2 separate regions of the Homo sapiens genome follow, and region 2 is linked to region 1. Evidence: fine-mapped expression QTL. Tissue or cell type: unexposed skin. Region 1 holds a variant in brackets; the other region holds the start of a gene. All regions are shown on one strand. Distances are from middle to middle. Region 1 overlaps SLC7A6 (solute carrier family 7 member 6). Region 2 holds the start of PLA2G15 (phospholipase A2 group XV).

Region 1 (5,371 bases):
TGTAAACAAGCTCTGCCTGCGGCCACATTTGAGTTTCTGCAGATAGAACCTGAGAGATCTCAGTTGATCCCTCTTTATTTTCCTTTTTCTCTTATGGGGTAGTAAGGAGAAAAGATTGCTGTGAATTTACCCAGCCTTGCAGAACTAGTGTTTTAAATGAGAAAGACCCAGAATTCTATGTTCCTTAGCACTGTACTGCCAGAGGTACTTAATAATATTCTGTTCTTTCCACATCTCTGCTTGCAAAAGCATTGGCAGTATATGCAGTTTATCCAGTGTTAAAAATAGCCTGAGAGTACCTTGGAGTTAGCAATAAAGGACTGTAGAATACCCATGCCTCTTGACTTTATGGAATTTGTTAAAGACAAATTAAAGGGAAAACGCTCCATATTCCTTGGGATAGTGAGGGGGAAACGGATACCCTTAGGATTAGGGAAGGCGGCTGCTCAGCTGTATGTCTGATAGGCTTTGGCTAGGGAGACTCTGGTCTGACTGAGCTTTCTAAAAAAGGGAATAATTTTCTGATTATAAAATATGTTTATTAGGCCAGGCATGGTGGCTGACGCCTGTAATCCCAGCACTTTGGGAGGCTGAGGTAGGAGGATTGCTTGAGCTCAGGAATTTGAGACCAACCTGGGCAACATGGTGAGACCCTGTCTCTACAAAAAATCAAATTAGCTGGGCATGTTGGTGTGTGCCTGTGGTCCCAGCAATTCAGGAGGCTGAGATGGGAGGATCTCTTGAGCCCGGGAAGTCGAGGCTGCAGTGAGCTATGATCACGCCACTGCACTCCAGCCTGGGTAACGGAGCAAGACCCTGTCTCCAAACAAAACAAAACAAAAAAAAAACCTCACAAAGCATGTTTATTTAGAAAATTAAATTACTCTTAAGTCATCCAAAATCTACCACCAAAAGAAGAGTACTTTTTTTTTTGAGATAGAGTCTTGCTCTGTCACCCAGGCTGGAGTACAATGGCATGATCTCAGCTCACTGCAACCTCTGCCTCCTGGGTTCAAATGATTCTCTTGCCTCAGCCTCCCGAGTAGCCAGGATTACAGGCGCCCACCACCACGCCCAGCTAATTTTTGTATTTTTAGTAGAGAGGGGGTTTCACCATGTTGGTCAAGCTGGTCGAGAAGAGTACTTTTATTTATTTATTTATTTATTTATTTATTTATTTGAGACGGAGTCTTGCTCTGTCGCCCAGGCTGGAATGCAGTGGCGCTATCTCGACTCACACCATTCTCCTGCCTCAGCCTCCCGAGTAGCCCGGACTACAGTAGGCGCCCGCCACCGTGCCCGGCTAATTTTTTGTATTTTTAGTAGAGATGGGGTTTCACCGTGTTAGCCAGGATGGTCTCGATGTCCTGACCTCGTGATCCGCCCGCCTCGGCCTCCCAAAGTGCTGGGATTACAGGTGTGAGCCACGGCGCCCGGCCTTGTATTATTTTTTAATTAAAAAAAATTTTTTTTGAGATGGAGTTTCGCTCTTGCTGCCCAGGCTAGAGTGCAATGGCATTATCTCAGCTCATCGCAACCTCGGCCTCCTGGGTTCAAGCGATTCTCCTGACTCAGCCTCCCGAATAGCTGGGATTTCAGGCATGTGCCACCACACCTGGCTAATTTTGTATTTTTAGTAGAGACAGGGTTTCTCCATGTTGGTCAGGCTGGTCTTGAACTCCTGACCTCAGGTGATCTGCCCACCCGGCCTCCCAAAGTGCTGGGATTATAGGTGTGAGCCCCCATGCCTGGCCTATTATTATTATTATTATTATTTTTCTTTTTTGAGACCGAGTCTTGCTCTGTCGCCTAGGCTGGAGTACAGTGGCTCGATCTCTGCTCACTGCAACCTCTGGCTCACTGCATCCTCCACCTCCCGGGTTCAAGAGATTCTCCTGCCTCAGCCTCCCGAGTAGCTGGGAATATAGGTGCGCACCACCATGCCCAGCTAATTTTTGTATTTTTAGTACAGACGGGGTTTCACCATGTTGGTCAGGATGGTCTTGATCTCTTGACCTCGTGATCCGCCTGCTTTGGCCTCCCAAAGTGCTGGGATTACAGGCATGAGCCACCATGCCCAGCCATAAATACCTTTTGAGGTCATCTTTTCTTGTAGGTTGTATACTGCTTTATAATTTTTTTTTTTTTTTTATTGATCATTCTTGGGTGTTTCTCGCAGAGGGGGATTTGGCAGGGTCATAGGACAATAGTGGAGGGAAGGTCAGCAGATAAACAAGTGAACAAAGGTCTCTGGTTTTCCTAGGCAGAGGACCCTGCGGCCTTTTTTTTTTTTTGCAGTGTTTGTGTCCCTGGGTACTTGAGATTAGGGAGTGGTGATGACTCTTAACGAGCATGCTGCCTTCAAGCATCTGTTTAACAAAGCACATCTTGCAC[T/C]GCCCTTAATCCATTTAACCCTGAGTGGACACAGCACATGTTTCAGAGAGCACCGGGTTGGGGGTAAGGTCATAGATCAACAGCATCCCAAGGCAGAAGAATTTTTCTTAGTACAGAACAAAATGGAGTCTCCTATGTCTACTTCTTTCTACACAGACATAGCAACAATCTGATTTCGCTATCTTTTCCCCACATTTCCCCCTTTTCTATTCGACAAAACCGCCATCGTCATCATGGCCCGCTCTCAATGAGCTGTTGGGTACACCTCCCAGACGGGGTGGCGGCCGGGCAGAGGGGCTCCTCACTTCCCAGAAGGGGCGGCCGGGCAGAGGCGCCCCCCACCTCCCGGACAGGGCGGCTGCCGGGCGGAGGCGCCCCCCACCTCCCTCCCGGACAGGGCGGCTGGCCGGGCAGGGGCTGCCCCCCACCTCCCTCCTGGATGGGGCGGCTGACTGCTTTATAAAATTAAAAAAAAAATTAATATTGGCTGGGCATGGTAGCTCATGGCTTTTGTAATTCCAGCACTTTGGGAGGCTGAGGAGGGAGGATCACTTGAGCACAGGAGTTTGAGACCAGCCTGGGCAACAAAGCAAGACCCCACCTCTAAAAAAAAAAAAAATTAGGCATGGTGGCAGTGGCAGTGGTGTGCATCTGTAATCCTAGCTACTCGGGAGCCTGAGGAGGGAGGATCCCTTGAGCCCAGAAATTCAAGGTTGCAGTGAGCTATGATCATGCCACTGCACTCCAGCCTAGGTGACAGAATGAGACTTTGTCTCAAAAAAAATTTCATATTTAATCTCTTTCATCAAATACTCTTAGAAAACATGGTTTGAAGATACATAAGCAATCTCCAGGCAGTATAGTATAGTGGTTAGGATTGCAGGCCTCCATGCCAGACTGGATTTAATTTTCAGCTTTATCATTGACCAACTGTTGATCTTGGGGAGTTAACTAATTGCTGCCTCGATTTTCTCTTTTATTTTTATTTTTTGAGACAGAGTCTTGCTTTGTTGCCCAGGCTGGAGGGCAGTGGCTCAATCTTGGCTCACTGCAACCTCCACCTCCCAGGTTCAAGTGATTCTCCTGCCTCAGCCTCCCAAGTAGCTGGGATTACAGGTGCAAGCTACCATGCCTGGCTAATTTTTATATTTTTAGTAGAGATGCGGTTTTACCATATTGGCCATACTGGTCTCGAACTCCTGAGCTCAAGTGATCTGCCCACCTTGGCCTCCCAGAGTGCTGGGATCATAGGTGTGAGCCTGTAAGTGTGGGCCCGCCAGCCTCTTTCATTCAACATGTACTTTCATCCAGATTCCTCGGGATCTGAATTCCTGCAGGCTTTCTATCCTAGAAGCACTGGCTTTTCCAGAATCTAGGCCTGAGGGCAAGAACTTGCTTGTCATAGTAGTGGCCAAGTCATAAAACCATATTCTCTTCCGACTAGGGTAGGCTTTAGGGTTCAGCTTACTTCCCTTCTTGGAACTTAGGTTGCAGTATCAGGCTTTCAACAGAGCTAGGATATGCTGAGTCTCCTTGAGTAGAGGCGGCAGTGGGAACAACGTGGTTTCAGGAGACATAAATTGCACGAAACCAATTAGGTTATTTAGGGGAAAGAAATGAAAGGTCTGCACTGAATCTAGGGTAAGACTTCGGTAGGATAGGAGAATTAAGTTGGTCTTGAAATTGAGGCATGAGAGGGGTCCGGCTTGTTGGTTGGGAGACTGCCTAAACAAGTTATAGCCACGCCATTCTAGACACTTCCATCCTAGAAGGGAGGGCCCAGGAAGTCTGTATATAACCAACTCTAGGGCAGAGGCTGCCAGCTGGTGGCCCGTGAGCCAGACTTGGGCCCCAGAGATAGATTTGTTTGGTTTGTGGTGTTGTAAATAATTTTGAATTAGTTGCCAACATTTGAAAATCAGGACTTGCCTTTTCTCTTGAAAAATCAAAAGTTCAGGCATCATTGGACCCAAATTCCTGCCCGATAAAATAAGCTGGATTTCAGTAGTCGTAGCTTCTTTAAAAAAAAAAAAAATTTCTTTTTTGTTTATTTAAAAGGAGTATCCCTATGTTGCCCAGGCTGGTCTCAAACTCCTGGCTCAAGTGATGCTCCTGCCTCAGCCTCTCCAAGTGTTGGGATTACAGGCATGAGCCTCTGTGGAGGGCTCTGGCTCCTTTTTTTTTTTTGAGACAGAGTCTTGCTCTGTCACCCAGGCTGGAGTGCAGTGGCGCGATCTCGGCTCACTGCAAGCTCCGCCTCCCAGGTTCACGCCATTCTCCTGCGTCAGCCTCCTGAGTGCTGGGACAACAGGTGCCTGCCACCACGCCTGGCTAATTTTTTGTATTTTTAGTGGAGATGGGGTTTCACCATGTTAGCCAGGATGGTCTTGATGTCCTGACCTCGTGATCCGCCCACCTCGGCCTCCCAAAGTGCTGGGATTACAGGCGTGACCCACGGCGCCCAGCCGGCTGTGGCTCCTTTTAAATGGAGTATGGACTCCCCAGTCCACTGTAGTCCTCCACTTCTTGTATTATCCCCAGACTTTCTTGCCTTTGCTCACTCATATTACTTTCCTGGCCTCTGAAGGCACTGCACTTTCAGATCCTGGCTTTCTGGCTGTACCCCATCCCCTTCCCAGGTTATACTGGCAAGGAGATCCAAGCAGCTTTTTGCAGATTTCAGGCTATTTTATTTTACCTACTAATTATCCTAGAACAGTGGTTCTCAGCCAGAGGGGAGTTTATCTTCCAGGAGACATTTAGCAATATCTGGAGACACTTTTGGTTGTCACAACTCCTGGAAGGGGGTGCTTTTTGCTTCTAATGGTAGAGGTCGGGGTGCTGCTGAACATACCACCATGCACAGAACAGCTTCTCACAATAAAGACTTACTTGGCCTAAAATGTCAATAGTGCTGAGGTTGAGAAACTCTGTCTTAAGGGTGCACTCTGTTCATATGTGTTCTGGGGTTTTGGAA
Region 2 (5,371 bases), 33 kb before region 1:
CAGTGACGAGGCTGTTGTGGGAATAGGGTAGTGTGGTTTGGGGAGTGTAGAGCTGGCAAGCCCTTATGACCACCTGAGTTGTGGTTCTGAGAAGCATGGAAGCATCCAGAGCTCAGGATGATGCCAAGTCTGCAGCCTGGGGGATCAGGTGGATGGCAGAGTCATTGTGAAAAGGGAGGACCCTCACTTTCTGACCCTTCTCCACAGTGCCAGCATGGGTCATTGCTGACCAGGCCTTGCCATCCTGCCCCTAATGGCTGTGGTTCCTAACACATGCAGGGCCTGTGGGGTTGAAGCACCAAGGAACCCCTCTTGAGGACAGGGCTACCCTTCCAGGGGCCCATGGTCACCGGATGCTGCTGGGCTGGCAAGACATTTAGACTGTGGCCAGAGTCCAAGGTGGCCCAGCACCTCTTGATCCTTCTCTTCCTCCACATAACCTTTGACTGGACTTCTGCCCGTCCCTAGGCCTGCAGAAGAGTCTCTGGTCTCCCACGCTGGGTTTTCACCAGATGGGTCTTCACTGATCTTCTGTTGGGTCACGGGTGAAGGTGGGGGAGGCAGGGGCTTTGGGAGTGGGAGTTCTGAGCCAGGGCCTTAGCGGGAGATGGCTGGACCTTAAGAGAGGGTGGGGCTGGTCACAGTGGCACACATCTGTAATCTCAGCACTTTGGGAGGCTGAGGCAGGTGGATCACTTAAGGCCAGGAGTTCAAGACTGGCCTGGGCAACATAGTGAGACCCCAACTCTACAAAAAATAAAAAACTAGCTGAGCTTGGAGGTGTACACTTGTAGTCCCAGCTACTCAGGAGGCTGAGGTGGGAAGGATTGCTTGAGCCTGAGAGGTCAAGGATGCAGTGAGCCGTGATTGTGCTACTGCACTTGGGTGACAGAGAGACCCTTTCTCAAAAAAAAAAAAAAAAAAAAAAAAAAAAGGAAAGAAAAGAAAAAGGGGCCGGGCACAGTAGCTCACGCCTGTAATCCCAGCACTTTGGGAGGCCGAGGCAGGTGGATCACCTGAGGTTGGGAGTTCAAGACCAGCCTGACTAACATGGAGAAACCCCGTCTCTACTAAAAATACAAAATTAGCCAGGGTGGTGGCGCATGCCTGCAATCCCAGCTACTCGGGAGGCTGAGGCAGGAGAATTGCTTGAATCCGGGAGACGGAGGTTACGGTGAGCCAAGATTGCACCATTGCACTCCAGCCTGGGCAACAAGAGCGAAACTCTGTCTCAAAAAAAAAAAAAAAAAGAAAAAGAAAAAGAAAAAAGAAAGAGGGAGGGTGGTGGTAGCCCAGTCACCAACATGTTTCACTATAAGAACTCGAGAAGGGCAGGGCAAGATAGTGGCTTCATAGCCAGGTCAGCTGCTTACCAAGAAGAAGGAAGGAAGGGGCAGGACAAATTTCTTGGGACCAGGTGGGATGACCAGGGTGCAGCTGCCCCTTCGAAGGGGTGGGTGTGTGGAGGATCAAGACCTCTATTTCCCAAATACTCTCGTCCCTCTATCCCACAGTGACCTATGGTGCTGGCATATAACCAGCTGTCAGGTCTTTGCCCACTCTGTTCGCCCCTGCTTCCTGGCGCAGGGAGTCCATGTCCTCTCTGGTTCCCCAGGTTTGCGAGAGTGGAGGGGGACCACGAGCTCCCGATGCCTCTCCTGCTCTGCAGGGGAACTTGCAGATGGCCCATGGCGCAGGGTCGAGACTCAAGCCCACTCCCAACCCCGCGCCCGAACTGCCCGGACTGGCGGGGTGACGCTGCACTCTGCGCCCCTAAAACGAACAGATTAACCCCTCTCTTGGGAACTGAACATGCTGACCTGGCCTCTCCCGGTTCCCCCCGCATCTGTAACCCCGGGGCAGAGTTACAGGGGCTGACTGGCCGCACCCAGGTGCCCTCGGGGCAGGGTGTGCTAAGAATTGGTGTGGGGGCTGCACAAAGGTCCTGGTCAGCTCCTGGTCACCTGAGGCCCAAGAACTGTCCGGGACTCACTTCCTCTCTTCTTGCTTTAACCGGGGTCGCTCAGCAGCGGCCAGCGCTGCACCCCTTATCCTCTCCCGGTCTTGTCCGTTCCAGATCCTCCAGGTCAGGGGGTCGCCAAGTGAGAGCTGCGCAGCGTGGATTTCGGGTACCCAGGGCTGGGCGGGGTACAGCAGCGGCGAGCTGGGTTCCCGGGTGGGCGACTGACAGCCCGGAGCCAGGCGATACCTCGATCCATCGATGCGCTCGGCGCTCAGCGTGGTCCAGGAAGCAGGGGGTTGGGCAAGGGCGGGGCGGCGACCTCCGACTGGGAGGGGCGTATATGGCGGCGAGTCCCTATTGGCCAGCCATTTGCGGGAGGCGGGCCCTGATTGGCCGGGGGGATGCGGGGGATGCGGGCGGCGGGGTTAAGCGCGTCGCCACCGCCCCCGCCTAGGCGAGAGCCCAGAGAGCTGAACCTGCATCCCGGACCTGCGGCGACCGTCGTACACCATGGGCCTCCACCTCCGCCCCTACCGTGTGGGGCTGCTCCCGGATGGCCTCCTGTTCCTCTTGCTGCTGCTAATGCTGCTCGCGGACCCAGCGCTCCCGGCCGGACGTCACCCCCCAGTGGTGCTGGGTGAGGCACGGGTCTCGTGGTGGATCTGTCGGTCGGGCGGGACGGGCCGCGGGCGGGGCTGCCTTCCCGGTCTGCTTCTGTTCCAGTCACGAAATGGGGGAGCGTATTGGTATCTGTCTTGTCACTTAGGTGATCTAGATCTGCCGGCTCACCTCCCGCCATGCTGGGCGCGGGTGTGGTCAGCTCCCCACCTCCTGTCCTGGTAGAAAATGGGGGTGAGTGGGAGAGTTACCATCTGGTTATTCATAGTTCCACCTGTCCGCATCATTCCCAAGCCTTGCCTCCCCTTATCCCATTTTTAAGCTGGAAAGACAGGTGCTTCAGCCCCACTCCTGAGGGATGGTGGGGGTGTGTAGAGTGGCTCCTGAGTTGACTTCTGCATCGACCTGGGCCTGGTTAGGAGGCTGTCACCCTCGACCCCTCCAATGCCACATATGCCAGAAGGCATTGCTGAAAGGAACCTCCTTAGGGAAAGGATTGCTGTCCTAGCTGGCCACCAACTCCCACAACTTATCAGATGTGTGGCATTGCCTGAGGGAAAAGGCCTAAGGGAAACTGAAGACAACTGAAGTCAGGGGAAAGGGTTGGGACAATGGCCATGAACCTGTGTCAGGCAACATGCTTGTACTCTTACCCTGCCACACATGCTTGGACTAGACTATGTGGAGGCTCGGTGACCTCCCCTGCTCACCCCGCTCCTTGATCACAACCCTGGCAACTCTACAACGGCCACTGTATTTCCTTGCAGGGATGGGCAGGGATGAGACCTCTGTCTGGGGGGCCTTGGGTGCCTCATTGAGGCCGTCACTCCCATCCAGAGCTGGTGTGTCCGTGGCCAGCCAGGATTCCTGAAAGCAGAGGCATCTGAGGCATGAATTACACGTGGAGTCTAGTGCAGCATGATCTCCATGCTCTTTCTGCTGAGAGTACTTTAAATGGGGACGATGCAAATCACAGAAGGGTAGAGTTGGCAGGTAGGGTGGTGCCAGGCAGGCCCCACCAGGAGTTCCCAGCCAGGAAAAGCTCCAGGGGGATACTAGGCCCAGGTTCACCATGGGATTTGGGCAGACTTGGCCCTGCCTCCCCAAAGCTTGCAGGATAGGAATAACAGTGATCCCCAGAGAGGAAGTCTGTGTGGGGCAAGCACAGAGAATCCACCAACCCAGCCTGGATGGGTGGGTGTCAAGTAAGGCTTCCTGGAGTATATAGCTGGAGCTAAGGCCAGGAGAGAGTAATGGGTCGGGGAGAGACGTGAGCATCTCAGGCTGCCTGGGATCGAGTCACAGGAGGAGTGGACTGCACAGGACTTGTGACTGGTTGGGTCATCTGAACTTTATCTTGAGGGCCTCAGGGAGTCCTGGGTTGGCCTGCAGAGTTCTAAGTCTGAGGGGCGTGGCATTAGGAAGCATGTGGTCTGTGGCACACAAAATGGCACATAGCCATTTTGCCTGGATTGATGCTAACCGCACTCATCAATTCAGTCAGTCTGTTTATCCTTGGTCACAGCAGAAGAGCCTCAGACCCCACCCAGAATCACAGAGCAGCAGGAGTCCTAACATGCCCAGCTTCTCAGGGAGTGAGGCTGCTGGCCTTAGCCCTGGGAGACCTCACGGTGGGCAGTTGGATAAGCAGCTCCTGGGCACAGAGCAGGGATCTGACCTTGACTGTCAGAAGATCAGAATCCTCTAGGGGTGGATCCTGAAATGGTGGTGGAGGAAAGAGAGACCAGCGATGTGATACAGAAGACCCTGGGCAAGGGGAAGGGACCATAGGCAAGGCCATTTCCACCTCTTGCAGCCTCAGTCTCCCCATCTGTTAAGTGGAAATAGTAAGGCTGTCCCCTCCCAGTGTTACTTGAGGTGAAAGGCATGTGGATGGCTCTTTTCCTAGTTCCAGGCGCAGATGGGCTCAGGAAGTGGCCACTGCTATTTTTAGGGGCCACACAGCCTGACCAGGGTAAGGAGCATCTGAGCAAAGCAGATCTGGTGACTTCCTCTTTTACCATTTCCCCTTTGGTAGAGACAGTGACCAGGGTCTCTGCCCTGCCCTGCCCAGTCCACAGGCATGTCATCCAGAGGCTGTCATGACAGGGACTCCCTCCCTCTGCACCCATACCATGAAGGGAGGTGAAGGCATGTGCCGCCCCTGCCTCTCATGGCACCCTGAAGACACTGGGATGGTGCCCAGGGAGGGCACGCCCTGTTCAGGGTGGATTTACGGTCAGTTCCCAGTGAATGTCCAGGAGAGCCAAGTGCTGGTTTTTCACTCAATGATCATGGACCCTAAACGGGGATGTGTTTGGGAAGTGGCGAGAGCATGGCATGTGGGGGCAGGTGAGGCCCGAAAGGTCAATGGGAGTAACGAGACTGTGAAGGGCTTTGACGCAGTGGGGAGGGATTTGGGTGTCACCAGGGCCCCAGAGTTCTGAGTACACTGAATAGGATGGCTGGGATGGAGAGAAGTCACCCTAGGGCCTGGACTGTGGTGATAATGGTGCTGGTTCAGGGTGGCTGTTTCCAATACGGGCTCCCAGCCATGCTAGGGCCCTCCAGATGATCTGCTCTCTGGCACCTTACTGGACTCTGGCCTTTAGTAAGGCCTGGGCCCTTGGTAGGCTGGCGGGTGCCAATGTAAGCTTCTCTCAGCTGTGTTTCTGTTCATTTCCCTCCCACCAGCCTGTCCTGCATACTTTGTCTGGTTGAATTTTAGCTGAGTGGCCCAGGGCTCTGTTCTGTTTCCTTCTTCCTCTCTCAGGGCGAACAGGACCCTGT

Evidence for each region. PIP is the estimated chance that this variant, and not a neighbour inherited with it, causes the effect.
Region 2: it holds the start of PLA2G15, and the variant in region 1 is the best candidate, but not a certain one, in a credible set for the expression of PLA2G15 in unexposed skin (GTEx, PIP 0.52).

The regions. Positions count from the first base shown.
Region 1 is chr16:68,276,172-68,281,542 of GRCh38, forward strand. All of the region lies in intron 3 of SLC7A6 (solute carrier family 7 member 6), which reads left to right. Among named protein-coding and RNA genes, the nearest start is that of SLC7A6, 14 kb to the left of the region's middle. The variant T/C (reference allele first, on the strand shown) is at 2,395.
Region 2 is chr16:68,242,954-68,248,324 of GRCh38, forward strand. It overlaps PLA2G15 (phospholipase A2 group XV), which reads left to right and starts at 2,420. Exons shown (of 6, transcript NM_012320.4): 1 at 2,420-2,600. The coding sequence starts at 2,474. RefSeq lists enhancers at 1,226-1,764, 2,886-3,386 and a silencer at 2,240-2,469.